Regions from separate parts of the Homo sapiens genome. Here region 1 is linked to region 2. Evidence: fine-mapped expression QTL. A gene starts in region 2. The other region holds a variant in brackets. All regions are shown on one strand. Distances are between the middles of the regions. Region 1 overlaps SDCCAG8 (SHH signaling and ciliogenesis regulator SDCCAG8). Region 2 holds the start of SDCCAG8 (SHH signaling and ciliogenesis regulator SDCCAG8).

Region 1 (11,371 bases), 230 kb after region 2:
TTGTATGTATCACATACAACATAAAAAAATTTAAATCTATGTATTCACTTGCTTTCACAGTATTCATAGCAAATGAGTGTCTGAAGCATAGGACCAGAGCTGGCAGCTTGCACCGCTTCTGTTTTGCATAAGATATTTTCCCCAGCCCACTCAGCTCTATAAAGTTGTTTTGTATTTCACCACTTGCTCCATCTTATCTTGAAGCCTTGCATATTTTTTTAAATGCTGGTTCTGATCATGCTTGCAGGGTGTGGCTCAGAGGATCGCTGTTGGACCAATGGAGATCTGCCTGGGCCCAGCACTCTTATGAGTCCCCTGTGATTTCATCAGCATCTGCCTTTAGAAACCCGGGCGTGTTTGTTCCCATGGTAACTGCTGCCCCTGACACGCCTGAAATTCCTGGGATGCCCTTGCGTGGAAGGGGAGCCCGTGCTGCCCATTCTACCCCTGCATGGGGCAGCTGCTTTTCTCCCTCAGGGTCCCCAGTCCTACCCAGGCAGGGGTGGCAGTTGTTCATCTGCAGATCCTGAAGGACATGGACCCTGTGCCTGAGATTAGGACGGCCGCACCAGCCTGGGTGCAGGCTCCCTCAAGTGTCCTTCCTCATGGACCCGCGGACCCTACGCTGTGCTGTGAGGGCCGGGGAGCACAGGGGCTTCCTGGGAGGAGGACTGGCTTCCTGCCCCTGATGGGGCCTGGCCACAGCTCCCAGGGCTCCATGACAGCACAGTGAAGATAGCAACCACATCCTGGGGGCCCTGGATGCAATCCCTGCCTGTTGCAAAGATGAGATAAAGGCGCGGGAAAGAAGGGTCTGAATTAGGGGTTGAGCTCTGAAATCGGACGATTCTGTGTTTCCTGCCGCATGGAGGGCGTGTGTGGTTCGCAGGCTGTGGGGGGCTTCTTGCAGCGGGGGCTGCTGCCTAAACAGACTCCGCGGGCCCCATGATGGCAAACCCCCTCGCCCCGTTCATGACTTAATGCCTCCTAGAAGAAAAGGCTAAAAACAAGACACACAGAACAAGAAATTGCACTCTCTCAAAACGACAGTCGCCCTGAAACGGACGCTGGAAGAGGTTTCCAGGCCCGTGGCGACGGTGAGGGGGGTGAAGGTCGCAGGTGGAGGGCACGGGGCGGCGGCTGCGGAGCCCGGGGAGGAGGCGGCGGGCGCCCGGGTCTTCCTCGGAGCGCGCCCCCTGGGCTGGGCGGCGTGTCCCTGCCTCCCGCCGGCGCCCTCGTCCCCGCAGCAGCGTCCCCGCCGCCACCCCGCTGCCTCGTCGCCTTTCTCGCAAACAGCGGTGCCCTCTACGTGGGGGATCCTGGAGGCTGCTGAGCACGAGCGCCCTCCGCGACCCGCCCCTGCTCCCGCCTCCACTCTTGCCTCGGGGGGAGGGTCTCAGTCTTCTGCCTAAGGCGCCCTCCTCCCTTGGGAAGTCCGCCGTCCTCTGCCGTGAAGATTGCCCCTCTCTCCTCCAGTGCCTCCTCCCCAGCGGCTTCGGTGGCTCCCACCCTCCGCACCCCGTCTCGCGACCTCCCCGCCAGCCCAGCCCCTCACCAGAAGAGGCTTTCTCTTCCAGCCCCTGAAATCTGGCTTCTGCCCCAGCCAGGAGGCTCCGCAGGGCGCTCCGCCACCAGGTGGCATTTCCCACAAACCGGCCACTCCGCCCTGACCCCTCTCCTCCCTGGACCTCCGTCTCCCAGTTTTCCTCCCTCCAGGATCCCACTCTCAGTGTCTTGCCGGATTCCAGTCCACTGCCAGCCATTGAAGGCGGAGGTTCCTTAACCCCTATCCTGGGGCGAGCCCTTCCCTCTCACTGCAGAAGAGCTTCTCAGCTAGGGGGGTCGTGCGGGCCCGGAGAGCTGCATTTTTAACAAACTCCCCACACTGACAATCTTTGCCAACCCTTCCCAGGCAAATCTTGCCCCCACGTTCATGGTCTCGCCTCCCAGCAGGTTTGGCCCACCCAGCTAGAGCTCCAGCTCGGCCCTTCCTAAGCCCCAAGTTGCATAGCTGCCTGGTGGGTGCGTGTTCCACAGGTACCTCGGACTCGCCCTGACCCCAGAACGTCTCTTCTACGCCAGGCCGATCCCTCCTGCCATCCTCTGTCTGTTAAATGGCACTGCCATTGCCTGCAGGACGAAGTCCATATTTGCTGGTTTGGCTACAGAGTCCAGCGTCGCCTTCCTCTGAGCAGCCTGCAGCCTCTGGTGCAGCCACACTGCACAGCTTGCAGTTTCCAGACACGCATTGGCCTTTGCAGTGCGGCCCCGAAGTGGGAAGGCCCCGCCCCTGGCCCTGGCCAGAAAAGCACCCACTCATCCTTTCCCATCCCAGCTTGCCCGCTGAGTGACTTTGAATCAATGATTCATGTTGTCTGTGCCTCAGTTTCCTTAACCTTAAAGTGGCATAATAATTAGTTCCTGCCTCATGGAATTGTGAGTGCTAAATAAACAGTAAGTCTAGTGCCCGACATAAAAGTGCTCAGCATACGACGATCATGAGCCATGTCTAAGCAGGCGCAAGCCCTCCCAGGCTTCTCATCTGCAATATTGGCCATTTCTCTTCATGCCTCAGTGTCCTGTTTGAGTTGAGCATGTTTTTTTTACAAGTGAGTCTCTCCTCCATTGGCCGGGAACCGCCCGAGAGCCGGGAGCATTTGTCATTCTTGATGGACCCCCAGGTCTTAAATCAGTACTTGACCCTTAAGAGGTGTTGGCCGGGCGCGGTGGCTCACGCCTGTAATCCCAGCACTTTGGGAGGCCAAGGCGGGCAGATCACGAGGTCAGGAGTTAGAGACCAGCCTGGCCAACATCGTGAAACCCCATCTCTACTAAAAATACAAAAATTAGACAGGTGTGGTGGTGCGCGCCTATAGTCCCAGCTACCTGGGAGGCTGAGGCAGGAGAATTTCTTGAACCCAGGAGGCAGAGGTTGCAGTGAGCCAAGATTATGCCACTGCACTCCAGCCTGGGCAACAGAGCAAGACTCCATCTCAAAAAAAAAAAAAGAAGAAGAAGCAGAAGAAGAGAGGTGTTTAGCAAGGCTTGGTTCGTTTGGTGAATTAACTCAGTGAGTTAACCACCATTAACGATGGTTAAGGACACTTGGGCGCTGGCTCGATTTGACTCCGAGCTTTACCGATTACTTGTGTGACTTTGTGCAAGTTAATTAACATCTCAGCTTGTTTTCTCATCTGTGAAATGGGGATGATACTAGCATGTACCTCCTAGGACTATAGTGAACTTTTAATTAAGATAATTATTGAATTTAACAGGTAGTTTATTAATGAAATTTACATAGGTAATTGTGGCGCAGTGAGCCCAGGGGCTCAAGGTGTTAGCAGTCATCAACAGTGCTATTTGAAACTGTGGGTGGATGAAGAGGTGAACTCAACACCACAAATATGACAGAGCAGTAACCACCATGGAAAAGAAAAGAGAGCTTATGTGTCTAGGACACCCCAAGAAATCTCTTCTGAATGAATGATGGCAATGAAATAGCCATTAACAGAGGGTAGGCTGGTTTGTGCAGGGTTGGAGGCTTTTCCAAAAATAAATAACTTTCAAAAAATCTCAGCCAGGCGCGGTGGCTCATGCCTGTAATCCCAGCACTTTGGGAGGCTGAGGTGGGTGAATCATGAGGTCAGGAGTTCAAGACAAGCCTGGCCAAGATGGTGAAACCCTGTCTCTACGAAAAATATAAAAATTAGCTGGGCACGGTGGCAGGAGCCTATAATCCCAGCTACGGCAGGAGAATCGCTTGAACCCAGGAGGCGGAGGTTGCAGTGAGCTGACATAGCACCGCTGCACCCTAGCCTGGGCAACAAAGCAAGACTTCGTATCAAGAAAAAAAAAAAAATCAATCTCGGGCCGGGCGTGGTGGCTCACGCCTGTAATCCCAGCACTTTGGGAGGCTGAGGCGAGTGGATCACTTGAGGTCAGGAGTTTGAGACCAGCCTGACCAACATGGAGAAACCCCGTCTCTACTAAAAATACAAAATTAGCCGCCGTTGTGGCACATGCCTGTAATTCCAGCTACTCTACTCGGGAGGCTGAGACAGGAGAATTGTTTGAACCCGGAGGCGGAGGTTGCGGTGAGCCGAGATCGCACCATTGTACTCCAGCCTGGGCAACAAGAGCAAAACTCTGCCTCCAAAAAAAAAAAAAAAAAAAAAAAAAAAATCTCTTTTCCCAATATTTGTAATACTGGGAGTGTTCAAGTTGATTTAAAAATTGAGTCAATTGGAATCCATCCTCAGCTCTTAGCTGTGAAGGGAGAGCTGCCCCTTCTTAGGGATCTCACTTCTCACAGCAGGGGTGCTTCTGTGTGTGGACATCCTGGTCAGCTGGTCCCCTGCTGTCTTGTGGGGCTCACACCCAGGCACTTGATTCAGCGGGGTCTGGGTGGTGTCTCCTTCCTCCTTCCCACCCCAGTAATCGCTATAGCCTTCCCAGGCCCCCAGGTTGCAAAGCACTCTGGACTAAACCTCCTCCAGGTTCTGAGGGCTCCATAGGAGGAAGGTCTAGGCCAGAACCGGCCCCATCGCTGAAGGTGGAGCCAGGGTGGCCGGCCGTGACCGGTGTTTATGCTGTGAGAGCGGCTTTGGCCCTGCCCATTGCCCTGGATGGGCTGCCATCCCTTTTCAGGAGTTCAAAACCACATACTGAGCCCATCGGTCCAAAGGACCATCATCTCATTTGATCCAAGCACAGGGCAAGGGACCACATGGACAATGGCTGCTCGTGGCACCTTCTTGCCATGCAGCCATGTCATGGTGTCACTTGTCACGTTTCCTGGCACCTTCTTGCCATGCAGCAATGTCATGATGTCATTTGTCACGTTTCTGTTCCATTCTTTTCGAGCAAGCAGGAAGCCACGGGGCTACCTCAGTTGCTCTTAGCCAGTAGCTCTCTCCACAGGTAGGCCTTCATCGGAGGGGAAAAGCCACCTTAGGGTTCCAGAGCTCAAGGGCGAATGATGCTTTCCACCCACTAATTTAAATACGGAAGCATCAGATTGTCTGCTTCTCAAGGAAAAGAGCTGTTACCATCTCTGTCTCTTCAATGGGACCCACTCCTGGGCCCCACAGCAGGGCAGGTGCTCAGATGAATGGTGGCCGCCTGCCTGTGTCAGAGGGTCGGCCTAGGCAGGTTCCCCAGTCCGCTGGCCCGGGACGTCCTCCTCTCTCCCGGCCGCTCACTGTTCAGGACAGCCCGGGCCCCCCCCTGGGGCCTTGCAGGAGAGCTTCTGTGATCCACTGGGTGGCTTTGAGGGTAGCTCCCAGGAAAGGCTGCCTCAGCCCCAGCGTGATGGGGACGGGTAGGGGCCGATGAGGCTTCCCAGAGCAGCGATGGCCTTAGGTATTGCCAGAAGGAAACCTACTTTTCCTCCAAGATCAGAGGGAAGGATGAGGTGGGGTGTTGGAGCATCACCATATATATACATCACACACACAGGGAAACACTCCTACTTGGATGGAGGATCTTTGCTGTTCTGTTGAGGCCAGCCTGATCCTGGAGGCAGGGCAGGGCCTGGCTGTTGCCCAGGCTCCAAAGAGGCGCCAGGGCGTCCCTTAGTCCTTACACTTTCTCCAGAACCTGCGGGCAGCAGGAGGCCCTTGTCGGGACAGGCAAGGGGGGCGGTGGTGCGGAATTGTGGGCGTGGCAGTCGGAGG[T/C]GCCAAGCCCGGGGAGGCGGGGCTTCCTGGGAGCATGCGTAGTGCCGGCTCTGCCTGGGCGGGGTCCTAGGCTGCTGCTCCCGCCTCCCCCGGCACAGGTAGGGCGCCCCGCAGACCCGGACAACGCTGGGTGTGGCTGAAAACAGGGAGTCATGGTGCGTTCTGGGGAAGGGTCAGGGCTGGGGGCTCGGGCCCCTGGACCAAAGACTCTAGCCAAATCCATCGGAGGCTGAGCAGGGCGATGGGGCAGGGCCGGGGGAGCCGTGGGGAAATGGGAGGGTGTGGGCCGAGCAGCGCCGGAGGCAGGTACCGACCATCGCCGGGTTTCCCAGAGGGCAGTGGTACCTGTGCCCACATGTGCGGCCTTTTTTGTAAAGGAACCTATCCCAACCCGAAGGCCCAAACGTGTGGCCGTGTAAGTTTAGTTGTGCCCGGAGTCCCAGGAGAGCCCGGACTGAGGGCAGCCAGAGGCCGGTGTCCGCAGAACGGCCCACGAGGCCTTCGGCTCAGTAGCCTGGAGTTTGAAATGCACCTTGAGCTTTAATGGCCTTTTCCTTGTGAGAATTCGAGTTAACGTGCCTGCTGGTGCTTTTGATGGGTGAGGACGGTGAGGCAGGCCACACATCTCGCTTCTTTCCAGAACACTTCTGGGTAGTCGTTCAATTCCACATTTAATCCAAAGCCAACAGTTCCATGGGTGACTGTGCTGCTGGCTGTAGGAAGCCGACTGTGGACAGATGAGGATAATGGTCTGAGTGAATTAGCAAGTCTGGAGAGGAGCGCCCATCAGCAGAATGACAAATTTAGGATCTTTAAAGACATCTGGTCAGCGATGCCGGAGCTCGTGATTGACTGAGTGATTAATAATGGAAAACCCTTACTTCAGTGTTTCCACGGCCCTCACCCACTTCCCCAGCCGGGGCGGCCGTCTGCTCAGCCTGCCAGAGACCTTTCCAGCTGAACAATGGCGGCATTTAGGCCCCTCATCTTTGACCTCTGCTTGGGAGTTCAAAGCTTCCTTTTCCTTCTACTTACCCCACTTATCTGCGTGTTTTCTAATTGATAGTGTACTGAGATGGCTCCCAGTTCCCACGCACATTTGCTAGAATGTTACCTTCACACAGTGCGTACCAAGGACCTAGTGCCAGCCAGAGCCTGGCACCTCAGGGTCACCCTAGGCGTCCTGCTCATGGTTCCCTATCAGGGGCTTCCCTCAGATACACACAGCCCCTGGGCCTGTTGAAAGGCTGACGTTATCCCTCTTTAATTCTGCGGTGGATTTTTCTCCAGGCTAAGGCAGCTGGATAAGCACAGCCAGGCCACAGCCCAGCAGCTGGTGCAGCTCCTCAGCAAGCAGAACCAGCTTCTCCTGGAGAGGCAGAGCCTGTCGGAAGAGGTGGACCGGCTGCGGACCCAGGTACTGTGCAGAACGCGGCGCAGGTGGGAGTCCTTGGGCGGGCGTCTACAGGTGGATCTTTTATGCACCTCAACAGGCCGGCTTTCTCACGGATCACATCGGTTAGCAGTAAGCTGGGAGGGAGGTCCCGAAGACTGTGCTGGGCACAGTGCAGGACCCAGAGAAGCGGAGCCATGGGCCCGTCCTGGTGAGGGAGTTAAAGTCCGTGCAGGTGAACAGACCCCGGCCCGCGAATCAACGAACCACACCGAGTGCCAAGTTGCGCCGTGCAGGCTGCGGAGGGTGCGAGAGCAGGGAGAAGCGGGAGGACGGCCGTGGGCGGCAGAACAGGCTTTTTGGAGGATGGTGGCCTTGAGCTGCCTCTGAAGGTCGTGTATGGTTTGAATTGGTTGAGGAAAGAGGTGTTCCCAATTAGCAAAGTCGTCTTGAATGGAAGGCAGGCATCTCATCCTAAATTAGCTGACTGATTACTGGGCTAATATCTGGAGTGCTTGCAGAGCACCCGGCAGTGTTACACACAGAACATGCATTAATTCCCTTTACCCTTGAACAAGCAGGCGATGCTGACTTTATTGTCTTCATGGTTTAGATAGGGAAACTAAGGCCCAGACAAGCATTACAGCTGGCAAGTAGGGACACCGCAAACGGAGGCTAAGCCTGACTCCACAGCCCAGGCTTTCCCCATTCAGGTTAGATCCGGGGCCACCAGCAGGGAAAAGGGAGGAAGGAAAGTGTCCCGGTGAATTTGGAACACAGTATGAAACCTCGTTTGCTAAATCGCTTCTCTTCCTGTCAGAGAGGCTGTGCATTTTGCCCCGTCAAGCAGTTTGTTAGGATAATGAGGTGGTCCGTGGGCTGACCAAGGCCTCCGCCTTTAATTAGGATTGCACCCAGGTGCTCTGTGAGTGCCCTGGGGACTTCAGGCAGTAAGTGCTTGGAATGATTAATATGAAAAATGCATCTGGAAATGAAAACGAAGAGGAGTCTCATTCTCCTCACAAAATGACCCTGTGCTCAAGGAACCTGTAAGTACTGACTTTTCCCACTCGGTCCAAAATCCCTCTGCCAAACATGTGTTCACAGACAGTAAATGAGCACACCCAGGCGCCACGGAGCTAAGGCCTGGAGGTGGAAATGCCTCTACTGTCCCCATGCTTCTGAGACTGCTCCCAGGGACTGTGGGGGAGCGGGCCGCTCAAAGTCCGAGCCACAGCCGCACTGCCACAGCTAATCTAGGAGGCGAGGCCTCACCTGGCACGCTCCATGGCAGGGCCCTGGAACCTGAATTTTGCCAAGCTGTTGGGATGATTCTGGACGACACTACATTTTGAAAACCTCTGAAGTGTTTGGAGCTGGAAAGAACAGAGAATTATTCCAGGTTGTGTCACTGTGCTGAATCCCCTGCCCCCGCTTCGGACAAGTAACTTAAGCCTTTTTCCAGCCTCAGTTTCTCCTCTGCACAGTGGGCATGGTGCACGCCTGGCTTCACGGGCTACTGGGAGTGCTGAGTGCAGGCGGGATGCCCCACGGGCCCTTGGGCACACAGGCTGAGGACGTGTGAGGGTGTTTCCTTTCTCCCTCATCTTCAGAGGGTCCTGGGAGAGGTTCAGGGAAGGCAGAGGCCTGCAGAGCAGCAGCTGTGGGACCAGTGCCACTCCCCTCCCCTCTGCTTTCAGGATGACCCCCTCATCCTCCACCAGACCCAGCCCAGAACCCAGCCCTGTGGGCAGGTCCCCAGGGAGGGCCCCAGCAGCACCTGCTTTAGGCCTGGCCAGCCAAAGATCAGGACCACTGGAGCCACTAGGTCTCCTGGCAGGTGACTAGGCTCTTGTCACATAGGAGGGAGGGACCGTGACTCCTGGCATGAGTGAATCTTCAGCCTCTAAAGCCAAGAACTCTGTCAGACCTCAGGTTGTGGGGAGTCTTCCGTGGAAGCTGGAGCACACGGCAGCTTCCTTTGGGCTCTGGACTAGATCAGGAGAACGTGGGCTTTGCCTTTTAACTCCCCATCTGCCTGCTTTACAGCACACTTAGATCTTAACATGGATCACCGATGCTTAGAAGCTTCTTCCAGGGCTTTAAAAATCTGGCTATTGCCAAATGAGTTGCAAAATTTTCACAAAACGCATTAAAAAAACCCCAAACCTCAAAAAATCCTCAGAAAAACTAGCAGGTCTTTCTTTCTTCTTTTGCCTGAAGCAACAGCAATGATTTGCCCATTCCTGTGCTATCTGATACTGGCCCATCTGGCTCATCTCTAAAGCGGCCTTTCAGATTCAAATATTACACTTGGAGTTATTTTAATATGAACATGACAAAAGAAATTTGGTAGAGGGAATGTTGGCTTTCAGTTGCAAATACTAGTGGTCAGAGAGGAGGCAGGGATCCAGGTTTGCAAGCTCTCTGCTGAATATCTAAACCCAGAGCCTGCTTTTTCTGGCTAAGCCTGGCCTTCACCTCTAGGTAGGGGCTGTCAGTGGGCTTCAGCCTCTGCGATGCCTTCTTGTCATGGAATCAGCTTGAGTTGTGAGTTAGGCTTCTGCTGAGCCATGATGTGGGCGAGGCTGCTGTAGGTTCGAGCAGGTATTTTGGATGCGGTGCCGCCTGAGGGCTCCGGAGTGCTCAGCCACCCTCTCTGTTTTCCTGGAGTGGCCTGTGGGTCCAGATCTTGGGCAGCTGAGGGTTAGAGCTGTCCTCATGTCCGGGTTAGAGATGGTTTAACTAAAGGCTTCCGTTTTCTCAGCCTGGATGAGTTAAGCTTAACTTAATTTTGCATGTCAAACTCTAAACATCTCTGTCCACTTAATACCCAGAAGAGAATGGGTCGGGCAATGGTTCCAAAGCAAAGTCCACCCCTTTCCTTCCCTCCCTGTCCTGGGTCCTGAGCCCCGCTGCCCCTGGTGGTGGGGCTCAGGCTGGCCTGTGGCCTCCAACAGGAAGTGTCTAGCCTGTTGGCAGGCTTCATTATTCTAATTGTTTCTGCTTGAATTCTGAAACACTCACAACAACATGGCTGGCAGAGGGAGCCCCTGGTAGTGGTAGCTGCCACATGGATGCTTTTGGCCACGAGAACCCCCATCCTCCCCGCTCCCCGGCGCTGTCTGCGGTGGGCAGGACTCAGGGCACTGGCTCAAGCTCTCGGCTCGTTTCTTGGCTTTTTTTTTTTTTTTTTTTTTTTTGAGACGGAGTCTTGCTCCGTCACCCGGACTGGAGTACAGTGGTGCAATCTCTGCTCACTGCAACCTCCGCCTCCCGGCTTCAAGTGATTCTCCTGCCTCAGGCTCCCAAGTAGCTGGGATTACAGGCACCCACCACCACACCTAGCTAATTTTTTTGTATTTTTAATAGAAACGGGGTTTCGCCATGTTGGCCAGGCTGGTCTTGAACTCCTGACCTCAAATGATCCGCCCACCTTAGCCTCCTAAAGTGCTGGGATTACAGGCGTGAGCCACTGCGCCCAGCTGTTTTTTTTTTTTTTTTTTTTTTTGATGAGTTTTGTTCTTGTCGCCCAGGCTGGAGTACAATGGCATGGTCTTGGCCTACTGCAACCTCTGCCTCCTGGGTTCAAGCAATTCTCCTGCCTCAGCCTCCCAAGTAGCTGGGATTACAGGTGCCTGCCACCACGCCTGGCTAATTTTGTATTTTTAGTAGAGACTGGGTTTCTCCACGTAGGCCAGGCTGGTCTCGAACTCCTGACCTCAGGTGATCTGCCCACCTTGGCCTCCCAAAGTGCTGGCATTACAGGCATGAGCTTTGCCCGGCCTCTTGGCTTGTTCTTAGTTTAGGGTGACTACAAATAATGGCATTATTGATCTCCTGCCTCACCTGGGTTCGGAAACAACTTCAAGAAAATAGCTTTTAAATGTCATGAAATGGCTCTTACTTGTCCTTGTGGAGAAACAGACACTGAAGCACTAGCCCAGCTTTGCCTAGATGCAGTTCCCCACACTCTGTATTCCGGGAGGGTCAGGGCCTCCAGACACACACCCTGGCCTGTCTTTTGTTTGAGACTGGGCTGGGTAGTCGCACTCTCGCCCTCTTGAGAGGCAGGCCCTGGCTGGGGGAGGCTGAAACCTTGGTGGTGGGGGTGGGGGGAGGGGGATTCGGGGTGAGGGTGGTGGGTCTCAGGGGAGTTTGGGCAGGGCCTGACAGCTTGGAGCAGGGTCAGGGGTCTGCGGCCCAGAGCCTGGGGGCTCTAACATCTGGCTAGGAAGGTTGGAGCCAGCTGGTGAGGAAACATGAGTCTTGGGGAGAATGGCATCTGGGACAGGGGAAAACA
Region 2 (11,371 bases):
AATAAAGTTCATTGAAGAATACATAAGAAATAATAAAAATAGCTACTTACTGGATTGGCAAAAGTGGTAACTCAGCAGATAAGATGTAGGGTGAAAAGGTTTTTCATATTATTTCTTTTCAAAATATTATTTGAAAACTACCTGAATGAACACTTGAAAACAAATGTAAAACAGCAGTCCTCTACCACTGTCTCTTTACCTTGATTAATTTTTCTTCATAGCATCTATCCTTACTTGACTTTACATCGTAAAAGAATTATCCATATCCTCCAGTATATTGTAAACTTCATCTAATTCCTTTACTGCTGGAGGATATAATGGTTTTCTCTTTAATTTAAAAAACAAAACAAGGCCAGGCGCCATGGCTCACACCTGTAATCCCAGCACTTTCAGAGGCCTAGGCAGTGGACCATGAGGTCAGGAGATCAAGATCATCCTGGCCAACATGGTGAAACCCTGTCTTTACTAAAATACAAAAAATTAGCCGGGCGTGCCTGTAGTCCCGGCTACTCGGGAGGCCGAGGCAGGGGAATAGCTTGAATCCAGGAGGCAGACGTTGTAGTAAGCCGAGACTGAGCCACTGCACTCCAGCCTGGCGAGAGAGCAAGACTCCGTCTCAAAAAAACAAAAACAAAAACAAACAAAAAGGCCCCAAAAACAAACAAACAAAAAAAACCCATCCGAATGGTTTTCATTATTTTTGTGTCACCTTTCCTCCCAGCATCTTTTATTTATGTAACATTCATTCTATTTATAAATGTGCATGGCTTTGTCCTTGGCTATATTAAGTATATGGCCAGGATGGAGACATAAGAGTTTGGCTTGTTGAATTTATAAATGTCAAAAAGCCAGGAAGGAAAGCTAATCCCTTGGATGACAGAATCATGATTCAAGAAGATCTCAAGTTTTAACTATAGCTACGTTCACGGAGATGAAATTTAATAGGAGGCAATGGTAAAATACTGGTTTAAAAACATCACCTGTGTGTTTATACACAATGGGAGAAATCTAGCTAAGTGTAAAAATGTTGGTTTATGTTGACTACATCAGTGGTTTCCAGACCAATTTTTCAGAAAACAAATTAAGAATCAACATAAGGCTGCCAACTTTTTATTGGTTAATCAGGAACACTAAAATAAAACAAAACCCCATGACCAACATCAAAAGAAACTTAACCTATCATTACTTAATAGGTGTTACTAACACTATCATTTAATAAAGGCCATTTATGAACATTAGAAAAGGAGAACAAAATCTCAAAAAATAGTACCTTGAATTACATAAATATAACTTGAAAAGCCATGTAACATTTCTCTCTCTCTCTCTGCTTTTTGCTTTGAATTAGCAGAGATGACTGTTGTTAAAGAGTTGATACAATTTTAGACTTTAAACACAAGTGTATGGCTTGAAATAAGGAAAGGGACAATTTCACTGCACTTTGCATTCAGACCATAACTGCAGAATTAAATATGGAAACAAGATCAGAACACAAAGAATAGCACTGACAAAACTGATTGAATCCAGCTGAGAGATGTGAGGGATGGCAAAGGAAACCATATGAAGTTGGAGGTGTCCTAACATTTAGACAAGAGAAAATCTAGCTAATATATTGAGAAAAACCTTACTTCATCTTACTCCTAAAGACTGAATTGCAACCAGTGGGAAGAAGTTATATAGTAAAAGCAGCTACTAGCTCAATTTAAGTGAGATCTTCCTATTACACTTTTTGGAAGCTAAACAGGCTTTCCTATGCCCAGGGAAGGGTTTGTGGAGAAGTTGGACCCAATAACATCTCAGAGATATTAGTAGTGGGTGATACATTGTATGAGCTGACTTCTAAAGTTCCCTTGAATTCTAAAATTTTATGAACCAGAGTAAGGAAATAAGTGGTACCCTTTAACTTACTAAAAAAGATGAGTAGAAAGAATTTTGGCTTTAGCCAAAAAGACAAAGGTTCAATTATAGGCCCTATCACTTAGGAATGTGTAACGCAGAGGCAAAGTTATTCACTAACTCTATGCTTCAAATTTTTTCAATGTGTAAAAATAATACCTTAATTTAGAAGTTTGTTGCAGAAATTAAATACACACACACCACACACACATAAACTTCCTGGCACCTAGGAAATGTTCAAAATTTGGTAGGTATTATTCAACGATTCAATAAATATTGTGTTTCAAAGGGTAATATTTTCTATATCATTTATTACTTATGGATATACTTAAAAAATGACTTGTTCTCTGCTATGTGTCATTTGTTTTTCAGACCTCAACAATGCATGCTTGGGATTCTTTTCCACTTCTATACTTTCTGCAATTCCTGTTTGTATGTAAGTAGATTTTATGAGGTTTTCTTTAACTTTGCTTTTGCTGTTTTGTTTTTCCACCTTTATTTGATATAAAAGTGGGCTTTAACAGCAACACACATTGGCTATGTCACTGGCTTTGGCTAAAACATTTCTGCTAAACTGGACAATATATCCAGTTTAATCAACCACACTACCAGACAGATGTTTTTTATCTCTCACAATGGCTAACTCACTGCTGAACACTCCTTTATGAAATTTTTGAGTAAGTAAATAAAAACCTAGGGTATCTGATTAGAAATTTTGGTTATTAATGAAATAAAGATATTTCTTCCCATCAAAAGTATCCCATTTCTTAATGAAACAGATCAACACTGAATGCTCCAGTCAATACTATCTACTCACCAAGCATTCTTCAAATGGCACGTAACTGCTCTTTTGTTATACTTCCAGAATAATTTGCAACTGTACAGATACTTTAGTTAGCAATTAAATATCAGGTTGTCTGTCAGATACTTAGTTGAAGAGTACACTGCTTAACATCCCAGTGTTTGGGACAGATAAGAAAGAAAAGTCTTTACCTATTAATTAGTATAGAAAAAATATTTTTCAGGAATACAATTTTGTGGAATAAAAAACATTTTGACAAAAAAGCTTAAGCATATACAATATTTAGTACTAGATGAGCATTATCTAATTGCAATCAGATACAATAATAAAACTAGTTCTTTTTTTCAGTAGATAAAAAGGAACAAGAAACTGATACTTGGAACAAATCAAATAAATCACGAAGCACAGAATTTTAAAAAGTACCATAACAGCATTAATATGCAGAATGTATGCTAAGGTTTACAGTATAAATTTCACTATTCTAATGTTAAAATAGGGAACAGGCAGATTATTTCCATACAAAATAATCTCAGAACACAATGAAATTTACCAGTAAAATACATTTAAAGCATGATTGAATATAATCCCACATACTGAAATTTAGTTACAGATTTTTAAAGTTGAAATTTAAGATAAATAATAAATCCTTTAAAGAAGTCTATTAAAATGCAACGTAAAATTAAACGATTAAAATTATAAGGGAAGAAAAAAGCACTTTATGGCAAAATCAACCCAATAAAAAACATAAAGTTAATATATCTTAAAATGTAAATTCTAGTTTAAGTTAAAAGTAATCACTAATAACTCATTAATGATTACAACTCATTAACTGTGGCAAAATAAACATCATAGGTTCTTGTTATGCGGAAATTTTATTTTTAACACAGCCTATAGAGTTGATCATCATACTATTATAAAATACTATTGATTTTCAAGAAATAATATTAAAACCTACCGTTAAGTAGCTACCATTAGGTAGTAGGGAAAACACTGCAACACTTCGTTTTTATGAAAAGCACATGTTAGGACATCTTTCCTCATGTAGTAAGTTACTTTATGAAAGTAAAGGTCCATTTTAGGAGGATTACTACTTTTACATCACAAAGGCAAGAACTAGATTAATCACGGTGAGAATCAAGTTCAGTGATAGTCACAGCCTACTCAGGGAGCACATAGAGAAGCTTTCCATACATTTTCACAAGGTAAAAGGGCTAGGGGGACACAGGAAAGATCACTCTGCAGAATGGACCTTGAGTTTCGTTTGGCTCTGCCTTCGATTAACTGTCTGGCTTGGGCAGACAAGTCAGTTAACTTTCTGAGTTTTAGTGTCTTCCTCTGTCAAGTGCACTTGGGCTCTTCCGTGTTATCTACAAAGTTAGGAAGAGCTAAAGGCAGCCCTAGTTTTACTTTTTAAAAAATAATAACAGAAAAATACATAAGTTGCTATTCATCAGTGTACTGTTTCCAGAGCTGAATTCCTAAGTCTCTGAAGCATACCCAGTTAGGGTTATACCAGTGAAGATCCAGATACTATAGTCATAATGTCACTCTCTCCTCTCCCATTATTCCTCCACCTGCTCCTCCCCATCCTGCTTTATTCTCTCTTCTGGTGTGTTTTAAGAAGCAACGCCAGCAAACGGCTGCATACATTGTAAGCTTAAGGATTAAATCATTTTAAAATATGCATTTTCAATCAAATGTATCATCTGCTTCGCCAAATTCCTCCCAAATGGCTGAATTTTCATTAAGAGAATAAAAATGAGTTAACAACTTCGGTAACAGAAATGTACTGGGCCAGTTGTTTTGTTTGTTTTACTTGCTTAAAAAATAAACGGAAAGATGTATCCATTCCCTCAGGAACATAAATGCATTACCTGCCCAATGAAAAAACAATTCTGCTTGTTCATTTCCCTGACACAACAGCTTCGTTGTCAGGCCCTCTCTAGCCCAGGCTCCAACGTCACCTAGTAATTTTATATTGATCACCTTGGCAGTGCTTGGACTCCAGCAGGCATAGTCCCTGTCTTCCTTACATTCCTCAAAATAAATAAATAAATAAATAAATAAATAAATAAAACTCTACGAAACACCACCGAACAGAGATTCTGTGACTTAGTATACAAATCCCACGTCTTCCCGCCCTGTGTTAGGCAGCTGCAAATGTTATTTTTTCATCGCTTGCATAAAATGGAAGCGAAACGTACCAAAACCCTACATCTGAATCCTAGGACAATGAAGCCGACAGGAAGCCACTCTCTCCTCCCCCGGGTTTACTACAGAGCCAGAGCCTCCACGGGGTGCAGTCGCCAGGCAGGGTGCATGACACCGCGTCTTCCACGCCCTCCCAACGCGTCCAAAAGGTTGCTCGCCTGACCTCGCCAACCGCCTCACACCCCAAAACCAATCACACAAAAGGGATTGGCCCGGGGAGCTGCTCCAATGGGGGAAAAATCCCTTCCCCAGCGGCAGCGCAGCCATTCCCTCCAATGCTCCGCCCGCACCCCTCGCAAACTGCTACGGCGGAGGGGGGAGGGCTGCACAAAGCCAGTCGAAAGCTGAAAATGATTCAATGCACTTAGGGGATGCGGAGGCGGCAGCAAGGGGCTCGGGAAAGCCGGGGGGCCGCAGGACTGGAGCTCCGGGGGGCGGCGGGTGGGGGATGGGAAGGGTGGTCCCGTCAAGCCCCGGGTCCCAGGCGGGCAGAGGGTGGGGGTGGCGGCGCCGCGCGGAGCACCCGGGAAGCGCCCCCTTCGCGGTCCAGCCCCGCACCCCCGCCCCGCGGCGGGCGGCGCCCGAGTCCTCGCCGCAAACCCGAGGAGCAGGATGTGGAAAGCAGCCGCGGCGGTGGCTGCGGCTGCGGCGCCTACACCGAGCAGCCGATCGCATCACTTACCCCTTACCGTGGAGAGAGGGACCGGACGGGGGAGGCGGGGCGCGTCGCGTCCCGTGAGTCTCTCGCACGCCGTCCTCCCCCCACCTCGTCGTCGTCGTCGTCGCCGCTGTTGTCGTCGCTGCCGCTGCGGTCGAGCTCCGGGGCCCTCAGCTCCGCTGGGCAATAACGTTATTCCACACACGCCCCACACATAGCGGTAACGGCAAAGACCGACTGCCTAGTGCGCAGGCGCCTCGGGAAAGGGCGAGGAGCCGGACCCTATCCCCTCCTGCCCAGTTCCAACGATCCCTTACTGCGCAGGCGCCACACACAGACAATGAAAAGGGGTTGTGCGAGGGTCTCACCCACACGCTTTTCCAGCTTGCCCACTGCGCAGGCGTGCCCCGAAAGACCAGCTTGAACAATGAAGAGGACCTCGGCGTTAGGTGGGACCGCAACCAACAAGGACTACAGTTCCCAGCGGGCAGAGCGCCAACTCCAAGTGAAGGTCCGGTTGCTGGGCATGCTAGGAGTTGTAGTGTCGGCCGCCTTTACAATCTAGGCTGTTTGGAAGATTTAGAGCTTCTATTTCTTGAAGATTTATTCGACCGTTTTAAAAAATCTCGCAACTGAAGCAGGGTTCAGAGTTTACTATCTGCGTCCTTGAGTAGCCTGGGGATCAACTGCTGCATATTAGCAAATTTCGAAGCGTCAAGGCCTTCAGTGAGCCCTTTCTGTCATTTGGGTGGTCCAGGCAGCTGAAGAGTGGGATGGAGGCGGGACTAAACCAGGCTGGGCTGGAGGAAAAGGGCGGGGCCTGCAAGCCTGTCTCTTGGCAGCAGGCTCTGGCAGCCAAACCGTCCAAGCTAGCGCCTGGAGCGCAGTGGTTTCTGGGAATTGTAGTGTAACTGGAAGGCCCTGAGGATTGTCGAGCTTGCAGGTTCTGAACGTGAGGACTACAACTCCCGACGTGCAAAGCGAGGGCCAGTGGGTGGGAAGAGCCCCCAAGAGCTCTGTGCGGGATTCTAGGCTCCCCTGTGACAGCCGCGGCAGGAAGCAGGCGGGCGCTCCCCGGCCACAGGCCTGTTGTTCTCGGAAGGGAGAAAGCTGGACATTTCCCCACGTAACTCCCAGCTCTGGGCCTAGAGTGCGTGCATGGCGAAGTCCCCGGAGAACTCTACCCTGGAGGAGATTCTGGGGCAGTATCAACGGAGTCTCCGGGGTGAGTTGCTCCAAACCTCTGTCCCTAGCCCCGAGGTGCCCAGGGCCTAGTGGGCGGGAGCAGACCAGGTGCGTTTCCTAACACCTGGGTTCTGCCCCGTCCACGCTACAGAGGAGCAAGATGGATGTTGCTGTGGTCTTGAGGAGGATGAAATAGTTTGATTTAGTTTTTACAGTTAAGCAACGATGTTTCCTCAGATTCCCGTAGTTACCTCAATCAACTCCTTGATCTTAACTTGGCATCTTTCTCAACCGGCGACAGCAGAAACTCTTGGATAGCTCTATGCCATTTTTGTTCAGTTCCCATACGTTGCTATTTAATCCAATAAAAGTCTGATTCACAGTTTTTACACATTTAAATTATGGCACAGTGGATTGAATGTGATTTATGGGATCAGTGGGGGGAAACACTAATAATTATTTTAATCACAAGAGCCCCCTTTTAATTGATTTAGGCTATTTACATACAGTAAATCATCTGCAGCTTACACCAATCGTGTGAATATTTTACACATGGGGAAAGCGAAGCTCAGAGAGGTTGAATTACAGGCCAGAGCCCACACAGCTGGTTAGTTGCAGAGCCAGGTATTATCAGGCTTGCCTTCAAAGCCTATGTTTGTATTTACTAATCAAGCCATAATTACTATTATCAAAACCTTATTAATTTAGATTTTCTTACCACATTACCATATGAGCAAGTATCTGTACAAATAATGTCTGTATTTATTTTCCTTTAAGCTCTGTTGGACTTAATGTCTGTACTTTTAGATGGCGCTGTCAACTTGGACAGCATATATAACATCTAGAAATTTCGATTCTGTTATAATGGAAGTTATGGAATTGTCCATAGGGTTATTGTGGGGAGCAAATGAAATAATCCCCATAAAGCAGTGATTTTAAGACTTCTTAAAATGTTTACCTATAGTAAGAAATAAATTTTATATGGGACATATGTGTACATATAAACTATAAGTTTCACTGAAGAATTTTTATTCTACTAAATGTAATAAACTCTGCTTTCTATTCTGTTGCATTTTCATAAGCCTCTAGGTCATGACTGTTTGCGACATTGAGAATACTAAGTTATGAAGCATGTGTTGTTCTGCATAATATGCCTACTATGTGTCAGTGCCTCCTACTATGTGTTAAGCATACTAGGTGCTAGGCATGCAGTAAGGAACAAGACAAAGTTCCTATCCCCATGGAGCTTCTGGATTAGTTGGGGAGAAAGACAAAAAAAAAAAATAATTATAGATTACTATGATAGAAAGTAAGGGTAAAGATCAGTGCTTACTAGACAAGCACTCATTAAATGTTAATTGTTATTTATACTTGTTACTTAAAGCAAAGTGAAGGTTTTTCAATATTAGAAAGTTTATCTTCTCATGACTCTAGATTTTATAAGGGTTACTATGTATTGTTACATCTGTCAATTGTGTTAACAAACTGTCGACATTCTCAGTATTCAAACTGCAGGAGTAAAAAAATCGGTTTTAATGAACACCTTCCTCAACCTACTGATGTTTCAAGAGCTGTTAGATACAAAATAAGCACTTCTAACTTTTCATTTGGAAGCAAGAAAAATACTGTGCACAATGATATGAGTAATTGTAATTTTTAAGATTGGCAAAAATTTTTTGTTTTCATTGAAAGTTTTTCCTGATGCTTCTCTTCCTTTGACCTTATTTTAAGTCTTTATATAATTGTCGGAGGCTGTTTAACATTAGGCATTTTGACGCAGTAAAGGGGTTCATTTTAAATTAATGTTATAGTAATATGTTTAATACTAGTGGTACTGCTTTCAATAATTACAGAATGAAGGGTTTTCATTTAAGGATAATACATTTTAAAATTAGTTTGAAATAAAATTTAAATTTAGTGTGATAACAATATAAGGTAGTGGAAACATTTCACCAAGAGCAAATACGAAGGATAGAAAAAGTTAAACAACTTAAAAAAAAACGTATTCATAATTTTAACAGTGAATCAGGAAATGTAACCTGAAATGTTTATGGGTTTTTCAGGACATATCATTTATTTAGTAGCACTTTTATTTTTGTATGTTAGCTTATATAACAGCTTCTGGAAGGAAACAAAACAGAATTAACTCTGAACTTAAGTACAGTCAGAAGTTCTTCACAAATATAAATTGCTATTTTTGAGTAGTATAATTTATTTATTTAGAGATGGAGTCTCACTCTGTCATCCAGGCTGAAATGCAGTGGTGCCATCTCGGCTCACTGCAGCCTCTGCCTCCTGGATTCAAGCAACTCTCCAGCCTCAGCCTCCCAAGTAGCTGGGATTACAGGCACGCGCCACCATGCCCGGCTAATTTTTGTATTTTTAGTAGAGACTGGGTTTCGCCATGTTGGTCAGGCTGCTCTAGAACTCCTGACCTTAAGTGATCCGCCCACTTCAGCCTCCCAAAGTCTGGGGTTATAGGCGTGAGCCACCGCGCCCGGCTGATAATTCCCTTTAAAGTAAAGTATTCTGTTCCTTAATAAACAATGCTGGAGTTATGTGGAAATTCCTTATTTTGAGTGTGCCTAATAATTTAAGAATTGTATTACTATGTAGTAAGATAAAATGCAGTTTAAAGTTCTATGTCTTATTTTGTTTTGGTTTTGTTGGTTTGTTTGGTTTTGTCTACCCACCATTACTTCCCCAAATGCCTTGCGTAGTTTATGATTAATGGAAGCCTAATAAACAGTCTTGGTCTTTCCTCACCGGTTTTTCCTCTAGCTTGTAAATAACTGCACATGTAGTCACTACTAATATCCCTTCATTGATATTCAGCCAGGAAGTGGCCGCATAAAAATGCAAAATGCTTTCCCTATTTTCCGTGATCGTACTTCCATTTTAAAAAGATCTTTTCCTGGGGCCGGGCGTGGTGGCTCACGCCTGTAATCCCAGCACTTTGGGAGGCTGGGGCGGGCGGATCACGAGGTCAGGAGATGGGAGACCAGCCTGGCTAACACGGTGAAACCCCGTCTGTACTAAAAAAAAAAATACAAAAAACTAGCCGGGCGTGGTGGCGGGCGCCTGTAGTCCCAGCTACTCAGGAGGCTGAGGCAGGAGAATGGCATGAACCCAGGAGGTGGAGCTTGCAGTGAGCCGAGATCGCGCCACTGCACTCCAGCCTGGGCGACAGAGCGAGACTCTGTCTCAAAAAACAACAAAAACAAAAACAAAAACAAATTTCCTTATTTCTTTAATGTTGGTACTATTATGGTATATCAAAATTTGAAGTTCTAATGTGAAAACTGAGTCAGCATTTACTTTCTTGTTTTTAAAATGAGGTTGGGCGCGGTGGCTCACGCCTGTAATCCCAGCACTTTGGGAGGCCGAGGCGGGCAGATCACCTGACGTCTGGAGTTCGAGAACAGCCTGAGCAATATGGAGAAACCCTGTCTCTACTAAAAATACAAAATGAGCCAGGCGTGGTGGCAGGCGCGTGTAACCCCAGCTACTCGGGAGGCTGAGGCAGGAGAATTGCTTGAGCCTGGGAGGCGCAGGTTGCGGTGGGCGGAGGTTGCAGTGTGCTGAGATCGCGCCACTGCACTCCAGCCTGGGTAACAAGAGTGAAATCCTATCTCCAAAACAAACAAACAAAAAAAGATATTTTCCTCATTTCTTTAATTTTGGTACTATTATGGTATATCAATAATTTGAAGTTGTAATGTGAAAACTGAGTCAGCGTTTACTTTCTTGCTTTTAAAATGAGATCCTTGCCTCATTTTGACCTTGATGATCTTGGAGCAGCTCCACATTCACCTTTCATCCATTCCCTTACACTTTTCAGTGGATTTGCTGTTTGACTTCTCTAAAGATATCTCTTGCTTTGGGTCGCCTATGCCCTTTTACAAGAAATTGGAGACATTTAATGATTCTTCTTCAAAACGAGAGTTCTGGCAGAAAAACCGGAAGGCTTTGTTGCCCCCACAGATCTGTTGTATTATTCCTACATAGTAAATGGTCTGAAAGTTTCCAGTGTGGTTAAAAGTGTATGTGTCCTGGGTATCCTGGGAACCACAGAATTTAATCTAGAACTGGAAGTGATTTGGGAGGTCTCTTGGCAGTAAGGTTAGGTGTTCATTTACTCTATGGGTAGTTATAATTCAACAACCACAGAATGGCCGAGAACTACATTTGTAAGTGGGCAAGATAGCACATGCGCCTTCTCTAAATTCAATACATCGTTGTATAAAGCCAAGAGGTATGAAATGAACTATTTCATAGCCAAGAAAGGGTGAAAAAAGCCACAATTATAGGCAATCCAGGCTCTATTTTAAGTACTGCACACTTGAGTGTAAGGGGATATCAGAAAGGAGAAAAATTGCTAGAAATGCAGTATTTTAGCCTTAATAACAGAATCATGTCTCATCTCTTGCTGCAGCGTTGGGAATAGATAACAATTTTATCAACAACACCTGTATACATGACTCACCTATTCACCTCATTCCTAGCCACCTTTGGTTGGGTGAGTATAAGGAAAAATGAAACAAACTTCTTGTATGACAGGAACTCATGATTTTCTATATACATTTTGCATTCTGGTTTTACCTTTTTCTGTCAACATTTTG

What was found. PIP is the estimated chance that this variant, and not a neighbour inherited with it, causes the effect.
Region 1: its variant is fine-mapped to the expression of SDCCAG8 in sun-exposed skin (GTEx, PIP above 0.99). The same link has a PIP of 0.9 or more in unexposed skin.

The regions. Positions count from the first base shown.
Region 1 is chr1:243,482,049-243,493,419 of GRCh38, forward strand. It overlaps SDCCAG8 (SHH signaling and ciliogenesis regulator SDCCAG8), which reads left to right. Exons shown (of 18, transcript NM_006642.5): 17 at 6,966-7,092. It also overlaps a transcript of AKT3 not described here. Among named protein-coding and RNA genes, the nearest start is that of MIR4677, 140 kb to the left of the region's middle. RefSeq lists enhancers at 105-720, 2,043-2,601, 7,791-8,314, 8,315-8,838. The variant T/C (reference allele first, on the strand shown) is at 5,676.
Region 2 is chr1:243,249,452-243,260,822 of GRCh38, forward strand. It overlaps SDCCAG8 (SHH signaling and ciliogenesis regulator SDCCAG8), which reads left to right and starts at 6,590. Exons shown (of 18, transcript NM_006642.5): 1 at 6,590-6,789. The coding sequence starts at 6,723. It overlaps CEP170 (centrosomal protein 170), which reads right to left and starts at 5,830. Exons shown (of 20, transcript NM_014812.3): 1 at 5,589-5,830.